2 separate regions of the Homo sapiens genome follow, and region 1 is linked to region 2. The links come from fine-mapping of genetic effects on gene expression. A gene starts in region 2. The other region holds a variant in brackets. All regions are shown on one strand. Distances are between the middles of the regions. Region 1 overlaps KIAA0753. Region 2 holds the start of MED31 (mediator complex subunit 31).

The links. PIP is the estimated chance that this variant, and not a neighbour inherited with it, causes the effect.
Region 1: its variant is the best candidate, but not a certain one, in a credible set for the expression of MED31 in CD4 T cells (Kasela 2017, PIP 0.83).

The regions. Positions count from the first base shown.
Region 1 is chr17:6,608,174-6,612,173 of GRCh38, forward strand. It overlaps KIAA0753, which reads right to left. Exons shown (of 19, transcript NM_014804.3): 8 at 3,746-3,975; 9 at 1,821-1,987; 10 at 175-291. Among named protein-coding and RNA genes, the nearest start is that of KIAA0753, 31 kb to the right of the region's middle. The variant C/CTT (reference allele first, on the strand shown) is at 2,343.
Region 2 is chr17:6,649,094-6,653,617 of GRCh38, forward strand. It overlaps MED31 (mediator complex subunit 31), which reads right to left and starts at 2,512. Exons shown (of 4, transcript NM_016060.3): 1 at 2,408-2,512; 2 at 1,263-1,340; 3 at 889-985. The coding sequence starts at 2,435. C17orf100 (chromosome 17 open reading frame 100) reads left to right here and starts at 2,669. Exons shown (of 1, transcript NM_001105520.2): 1 at 2,669-4,383. The coding sequence starts at 2,821. The coding sequence ends at 3,177. RefSeq lists enhancers at 1,927-1,986, 2,077-2,156, 2,227-2,356 and silencers at 2,607-2,686, 2,987-3,036.

The sequences.
Region 1 (4,000 bases), 41 kb before region 2:
GTTTGACTGAAACGTTTAATAAACTACATTTTATGTATTTATTCTATTTTTAAAAATAATCTACATTTTAAATAACCAACTTTAAATGTAGGAAAGAGAAGAAAGGGTTCACTTCCAAGTCTATGTAAAAGGAGCTCTTTAATTCTCAAAGATCTGAAAAATACCAGCACAAACCTGGCTGCTTCATGCTCAACAGCACCTGTCAGGTGACTTTCCTCTTGAGGATCTTCTTGCTGGAGAGGCTCTTTTGTGGCATCTCTGGGGCTAGTTTTCACCTTTAGCCATGCAGCACTGAAATAAATGGAAAAGCATACCTTTGTCATCATTCACTCCGTATCCAATGACTCATCCAAGTAGGTGCCAGCTCAGAGATGACAACAGCATTAAATTAATGGTGATCTGTAGCACGGGGCCCTACAGTAGAAGCTGAATGTGAAGAAAAGTGAGATCCTCCCGCACTCAGGCACAGTGTCAAAGGGCAGAAATTCTCCTTTGCTTCAAAGAAGCCATCACCATTTTAAATGAGAAACAGTGATCAATTACAGAATATTGGGTGAGTGTCAACAAAACTCTGTCACAATACATAGATTTGGATCACTAATTACATTCCATATTATAAGGCAACTCCGTATCTTTATAAGGCCTAACAGCACTGTTGAGCCTAGAAGCCTCACCCACCCTCCTCTACCCACCACACATGCACTCTAAAAGACAGTCCATTGTATATTTGGTTTGTAATACAAACTTCAACCACTGAGCTTATCAACTGAATGTAAATCTCCATATTAATACTTGTATACAAAAATACAGAAAACAGAATAGAGTAATAAAAACAAAAAAAGCACATTATGAAGTCAGAAGACCTGATTTTAGGTCTGGCTGTTACATGAATAAGACATTAAATTCTCTAAACATTGTTTCCTTAACTTGAAAATGAGAGTGGATGGATGAGCACGGCCATTCCTTCACACTCATTCGGAATCTTAGGGGGCTTCTCTTCCACCAAGCTGCTCACCCTGACTTCTGATGGCTCCAAAGACAGAACCCTGTAGTCACCTATCTTCTCCCTTCTCCCCTGACATGACTGCTTTTTACTTCTTTCCTTTTTCTGTTCCACCTCCTGGTCCTTTCCATTGTGTTTTCAAAAACTACTGCCTCACGGCAAACGAGCTCCCCTTTATCTTCAACCGATTCCCCTAAAGATTATTTCCACCTAACTGGACCCTGCTCCTCTTCTCTCTAGCCCTGTGAAATGGCAGCTTCTCATTCTAATGTGCTATGAGTGAGGATGACAAGACAGTAACATCAACATTATCCTAATTGCTCCCTGCAGCTAAGACAGTGTTGGTGAGATCTATATAGTTTTATAGTTCATAATTATCTTGACTTAGAGTTAGAATTATTTTAAAATATTTATTTACTCAGCAAAGATTTACTGAATGCCTACTATGTGACTAGCACTGGACATTCAAATATAAAAAAGAATATAAAAAAGACACAGTCCCTGGCCTCAAGTTACTAGAATCTATTGGCAGAAGAGACAAGTGAAGGGAAGCCCCCCATCTTCCATTCAATCACACATGTCCCGGTGTTGGGGTGGCCCATGGAAGGGTGTTCCAACCACAGTCAGGCAGAAGAAGGAACCAACAAGCTTCCAGACAAAGACTTCTCATGTATGACTCACCCAAAAAAGGATTTCTGCTTAATGGAAAAAATTAAGGCTACTACTTAATTTGCTCCTTATAAGCTACAGGTCACCTTTGATATATGGAGGAAAAAGAGCATCACATACACAAACGGTCCCTTGAGTTTTCACATACCATTTAGGAGACGCTGGTGGGGATGTGGGGTTTGGGGGTATCCATGGTGCCTTGCGGTCTTTCACAGGCTGCCGGTTCATTTTTAATCTGGATGAAACTGTTGTCTGCTGCACTCTGCTTTTACTGTGAGGTTGGCTTTGTCTACCTCTTTCAGCTTTGCGGAGTCCCTGTGAGAGATAAGTAAGAATTATAAGGCCACACAAATACCAAAGAAACTATGGTTTAACCTCTGACTCACTGAAGCTCCAAGTTCTCCATGTTATTCATGCATCCATTCGGTAAAACCTGAGTAGAAAGCACTGTGGCAGAAATTTGGGGGAGGGTGTAAATTTCATTGAAACAACCATGGTAGGGGCGGGGGGTGGAGGGTGTAGAATTTAAATCCCTGGCTCTGCCTGACACCTTTAAACATATAAACAATATATAAAATATATTTTTATTTATTCACAATTTGTTTCCTAATTAAACAAAAAAAATTTCATACCATATTGTTAAATTATTTTTCTTTTTTCTTTTCTTTCT[C/CTT]TTTTTTTTTTTTTTTTTTTTAAGAGACAGGGTCTTGCTCTGTTGCCTAGGCTGGAGTGCAGAGGTATGATCATAGCTCACTGCAGCCTCAAACTCCTGGGCTCAAGCGATTCTCCTGCCTTAGCCTCCTGAATAGCTGGGATCACAAGTGTTAGATACCATGCCTGGCTAATTTTTTATTTTTTGTAGAGCCAGGGTCTCACTGTGTTGTCCAGGCTGGTCTTGAACTCCTGGGCTCAAGTAATGAGTAAAACATTTTTCATAAAAATACTTAACCTCTCTGGGCCTTAGGTCTAAATAGAATGAATCTAGCGATTTAAAAAATGTTATCGAGAATGCGGGCTGTCTGTGGAGAGGCGCACCCATCTGAATTCCTACAGGTTCAATCTTGACATCTCAATGATTCATGGTCGCCCCCTGCCATAGAAGTTTGGGAAGAAACAGACTTGATCCTAATCCATTATCTGTCAATAACTTGGGATAACTGCTAACTCTCCTTTTCTGGAGGCCACCTGAAAATAAACAGATTTGCTAAAGAAGCCTTTGGGCAAGACCACCAAATGTCACTAATACAATAAGGGTATTCGACCAGGAGGTGGTCTTTTGGCCAGTTTTCCACTGATAGGGCCATAAGTAAGTTTTAAACAGAAGCTTAAAATATAATGTAGTTTCAAATCAAGTTGTACCCTGCTGGCTCCCAAAGCCATATTAGAAAGCACTCACCCTAGGATGCCCTTTTAATATGCAGTAATTATTATTGATCGATATTTATCTTTAGCAGGAACTAATTTTTTTTTTTCTTTAAGACAGGGTCTTACTCTGTTGCCCAGGCTGGAGTACAGTGGATCGATCACAGCTCACTGCAGCTTCAAACTCCTGGGATCAAGTGATCTTCCTGCCTCAGGCTCCCAAATAGCTGGGACTACAAGCATGAGTTACCACATCTGGCTAATTTTGTTTTTAGTAGAGATGGGGTCTCACTATGTTGCCCAGGCTGGTCTTAAACTCCTGGCCTCAAGCAATCCTCTCGCTTCCCAAATTGCTGGGATTATAGGCCTGAGACACCACACCCGGCAGGAACCAAATCTTAATCCCCTCAAGTCTCACACTTCCAAATCAGAAGCAGAAAAAAAACTGAATTTTAAAATCTCCTGCCCAATTAGGATATTGGTATCATATTAGTTAGGATCTTACCAAACCAGGAATAGAAAGAATTCTCTATTCTAGTAACAATATTAAAAATTGTTATTTTTTTGTTAAAATATATAAACAACTTAAATAGCCAGACTCAAGGACTGCAGCATCCAATTGCCTGAGAACTGGCTCCACCATATACCAGTTTATGTGACCTTGACAATGTCAGATTAACACAAATGGGCCAAAAGAGAGGAATGATTTCATACTTGCTGTCTTGCTGGCGCCAGAGTATCTTTCTTCCTAAACGGCACATTCTCAGTCACAGGCTTCTTTTTCCCTGCTTTTGTTTTTGCCACGGCTAACACCTCGTCTTTGAAGCTTGCACTTTGGTCTAGAATAAATGGTCCTTCTTCCAGAACTATATCCGCATCTAATACATCAAGCTCACTCTGCAACCTCTGGGTCTCCGGAAGCTCCGTATCGGGCTGATACTTATCTACATGGAAATTTTTGAAAAACAA
Region 2 (4,524 bases):
TTTGAGAGAAGTTTGAAACATTTTCCTCTCAAACTTTTTTTTTTTTTTAAAGGTTCATTATTGCTTTCTACCTGCTTAAGACAAAGCAGGGGTGTGAGTTCAAGGTGGGTTGGTTTTTTTTGTTTTTTTTGTTTTTTTTTTTTAACCATTAAAAGGGAATTGCTTTGTGGTTATAATATGTTTCTTGCAACTTAGTAAGCCTTAACATGAAAGTGTCTGCTGAACGACCTGAATGGTAAATATATATATATAAATGAGTTAATGCATATGAAGCATTTAGCACTGTTCCTGGCAAATAAGAGGCCTTAAATAAAAGACAGCAACTCTAAGACTCAGGTAAGATCACCTCCTTCAAATAACCCCAGAAACACCTTCCTTACAGATACCCTCTTTTAATTTCAGCCCATGGCTTATGCTACTACATTTACAGATTGTGAGTTCTTAGGGACCAGAAACCTGGTGAGATGGGAAGGGTGGTAAAAGACAAGGTCAGAAAAGGCAGGGCCAGATCGTATAAGGCTTTAGTCCAAGAAAAAAGACTGGATTTTATTCTGCATGGAATGGAAAGCCATTGAAAGGTTCTAAGCAAGAAAGTAAAGTGTTCTGATTTATATTTTTAAAAGATTAAGCTGGTTTCTGTGTAGAAAGCTGTTTTGCTTGGTTTGGGTTGGGGTGGAGATGGGGGCAGGAAGGTAAAAGTGGAAGCACAGATAACCAGGGAGTAGATTACTGCAGTGTTACAAGTTAGAGATGAGGGTGTCTTGTATTAAGACGGTGATAACAAAAAGAAGTGGAGAGATTCCAAATACATTTTTGCCAATGTGAAACTAAGAAATCTATTATATAATAAAGTATACACATGCTTAGGATTATAAAAATTAAACTTACTTTAGATACTTGGCATATTCTGGGTCTTTCCAGTAAAGCAAGTATTTAAGATAATTAACAAAAGCTTTGTCTTTGAAGTAACCTCTTTGGGCAAGAACTGAAAAGCATTAAAAAAAAAAATCTGTAGGTCAAACCAATCCTTAAACTGTGATTTGTTACCCCTAATATAAAGGATCTATTTACATAACACCCCCACCACCAACACACATTGGATTCAAAACACAAGTCCCAGTACGCAATTATATCTATATACCAGCATAAGTGTAATGTCATTCAACTGAGAATGTGTAAAAGTAGATACTATTTTGAACTGCAACTCTTCTGTCAGAAATCATTAATAGCTACTCAATTTAATGAGGTGCTTAACAACTTACAATTAAGGTAATTTGGGTTGGCTAAACATTGCACAAATTCCAACTCCAACTGAAACCGAAGTCGATTTCCAGCATCATCTAGGAGACAAGACAGCAAAAATCATGGAAAACAAAGGTCACTGTATATAATACTGATTTGTAGTAAGGAAAGAGCAATAAAGAAACCTGACTAATGTTGAGATGGTCTTCCTAAACTAGGAGTGGGAGGAGATAAACCTTCCTTCGAAATCTAAGAAAAGCGGAGCCCTGATTAAAAGGAGTAAGTTAGAAGTTTCTCTAAAGTTAAAGAGAAATCATCAAAGAAAACAGCAACACAAACGGAGAATTCCTACCACTCGTGGGCCACTATGTAGGAATTTTAACAGTGATCACTAAGGTAGGCTGTAATAACTGTGGCTTCCCCTATTTTAATAATGCGTTGTAACAACTGTTAACAGTGATTAAGTTTCGCAAACGCTAGGGGCTGAATCAGTAAAGAAAAACTTAGGATGCAAGAGACTGCGGAGAGCCTAAAAGATCATGCAGCGCATGCATATAAGAAGCACCAGGGTCAGGAGATCGAGACCATCCTGGCTAACACAGTGAAACCCCGTCTCTACTAAAAATACAAAAAAAATTAGCCGGGAGCGGTGGCGGGCTCCTGTAGTCCCAGCTACTTGAGAGGCTGAGGCAGGAGAATGGCGTGAACCCAGGAGGCGGAGCTTGCAGTGAGCCGAGATCGCGCCACTGCACCCCAGCCTGGGCGACAGAGCCAGACGCTGTCTCAAAAAAAAAAAAAAAAAGAAGCACCAGTAGCAGAATGATACACAAGTCTGGCGACGATATTTCAAACTTAGGCAAGCTCATGTGAGAAGCAGAAAACCAATCAAGGAGGACACGGTTTAACACACAAGTCCTCTCCCTTAGTCTCACCCACGCCAGGGAGCTGGTGGGGTGGTGTCTGAATAGCAAAGATGTGCGAACAAACCAAATCAGGAAAACTGCAAAGAGTACCTTAGTCTTTCTAGACGCTACAAGAGCCTTCTCTCCTCTCTGTCCAAATATTAACCCTGCCAAGAGTAAGGCCTGGAAGGAGGCCACGGGGAAGAGGTCTGGGTCAAGGAGAGTTCCATCTGCGAAGACTCCAAGATCAGAGAGCTACTCACCTGTCTCCATAGCGACAGCAGCGGCCATAACAAACGAAGACACCAAAACGCCACCAGCCTGACAGAGCAAAAGCCCAGAGACGCGGGCGAAGTTCCGGAAACCACGGCTCCCTCTTCCGGTCCCGGGGCACTGTGGGATATGGGGCGGGGCGGCTCCGCCCATCCCCGACCAGCCCTGGGATGGCTCCACCCGCGCTGGCTCCAAAATAGCGAGGGGGCGGGGCCCGGGCCGTGGGAGCGCCTGAGGGGCAGGAGTCCAGTGTTTTAGCCTTCGAAGGACCATGGTGCTTCCACGTCATCGTGTTGTGGCGCTCCCGGCTATGGCAGTACCGTAGTTTTCCTCTCTTCTGCCTGCGGTGACCATTGGGCTGTAGGGTGCCCCGAGGCCTCCCTGGCCCCCTCACGCCGGCAGAATGGCCTCAGCCCGAGGGGCCAAGCAGTCTTCGCCCCGGGTGGGGACCACCCGCTACACAGAGACGTCCACGGTCCGCGTGGAGACCTCGTCCCACCGCGTGGAGACGTCGTCCCGGCGGGTGGAGACCTCCCAGCGCCGCAGCGAGGGGCCCTCCCTCTCCCCCTCGGGGAAGCGGCTCCCTCGCATCCTCGAGGCGTCCTCCCGGCACGTGGAATCCTCCTCGCAGCGCACGGAAACGACCTCCCGCCACGTCAGAGCCTCGTCCCTGAGGGTGGAGACGTCTCTGCACTGCGCGGAGAGCCCGACCCCGCGGGCCAAGCCGGCCGCCCGCCAGAACGAAAAAACGGCCCGATGAGATGCTGCTTCCCAAAGGCCACCAAGGGGCCAGGGCCCTCAGCCAGGACAGAAAGGCCTCCAGTTGCCAGCCAGCCAGCCAGCTGCCAGGTGGACCAATCATTTTCGGTTTCATGGAAACAAACCATAAATCAATGTAAGAAACAGCCAAGCCGCAGTTTCTGAACACAGCCAACGTTTACTGACCGTCCTGCGTCTTGGACCAGCCTACTTTTGACCCAGTGAACTATTTTCACTTGAAGCCAGCACAGAAGGTTTTCAGGCCCAGGATGCTGTCTAAATCGGGTTGATGGACAAAGAGAGGCTGTTTGAGCCTCTGAGCCAGGTGAGTTTGGGATCCACAGCCCTCAGAAAACCTTCACCCCTTAGGAACAGAGACCAAACTGAAATAATGACCTGTGGAATGATTCCATGCCTGCTAAAAACTCGAGGGACAAGGAACAGACTCATAAATTATTAATTGGCCTTTGTTTATGTTTCAAAGTAAATGGTCGTTTTCTTTATGCTAAGTCTTTGTACCTGGCACCCCCATCCATACACTTTTTTAAGGTAGGTTAGATGTGGTTAAAAATGACAGTAAACCCACCAGCAAGCAAAAATAATCTTAGAAAGTGAGAGGAGGTCACTGAAACCTGGCCTGAGGTTTGAAGAAGATGGAGAAGAGTTATATTTATTGAGAACCGGCTCTGTGCCAGGCACTAGATGTTCCTCCACTTACGATGGGGTTACCTCCCGTTGAAACTATTGTAAGTTGAAAATATGGTAATTTGAAAATGCACTTAATACCCCTAACCTACTAAACATCATGGCTTAGCCTAGCCTACCTTAAACATGCTCAGAACACCTAAAGTTGAGCAAAATCATCTAACAGAAAGCCTGTTTTATAATAAAATGTTGAATATCTCATGTAATTTATTGCATACTGTACTAAAAGTGAAAAAGAATGGTTGTAAGAGTACTTAAAGTACTATTTCTACTGAATGTCACTTTTGTACCATTGTAAAGTCGAAAAATCATAAGTCAAACCATCTTAAGTTGGGAACTGTCTGTATTCTGGGAACTTGGGCTATAGCAGTAAAAAAGGCAAAGTCCCAGCTCTAGTGGAGCTTACACTCTGGTGAAAAGGCAGACAAGCAATGATGAAACAAGACAATTTTCTATTGTGATTAGCACTATGAAGGAAATACATGGGTAATGTGATAGAGAATGGAAGTAAGTGGCTTCTTTTGATAAAATGGTCAGGGAAGGCCTTGCTGATTAGTTAACATGTAATCTGAGATATGTGTGAATGAACAGTGATCTGGAACAGGTGCATTCTAGGCAGAAGAACAGCAAATACAAAGGGTGG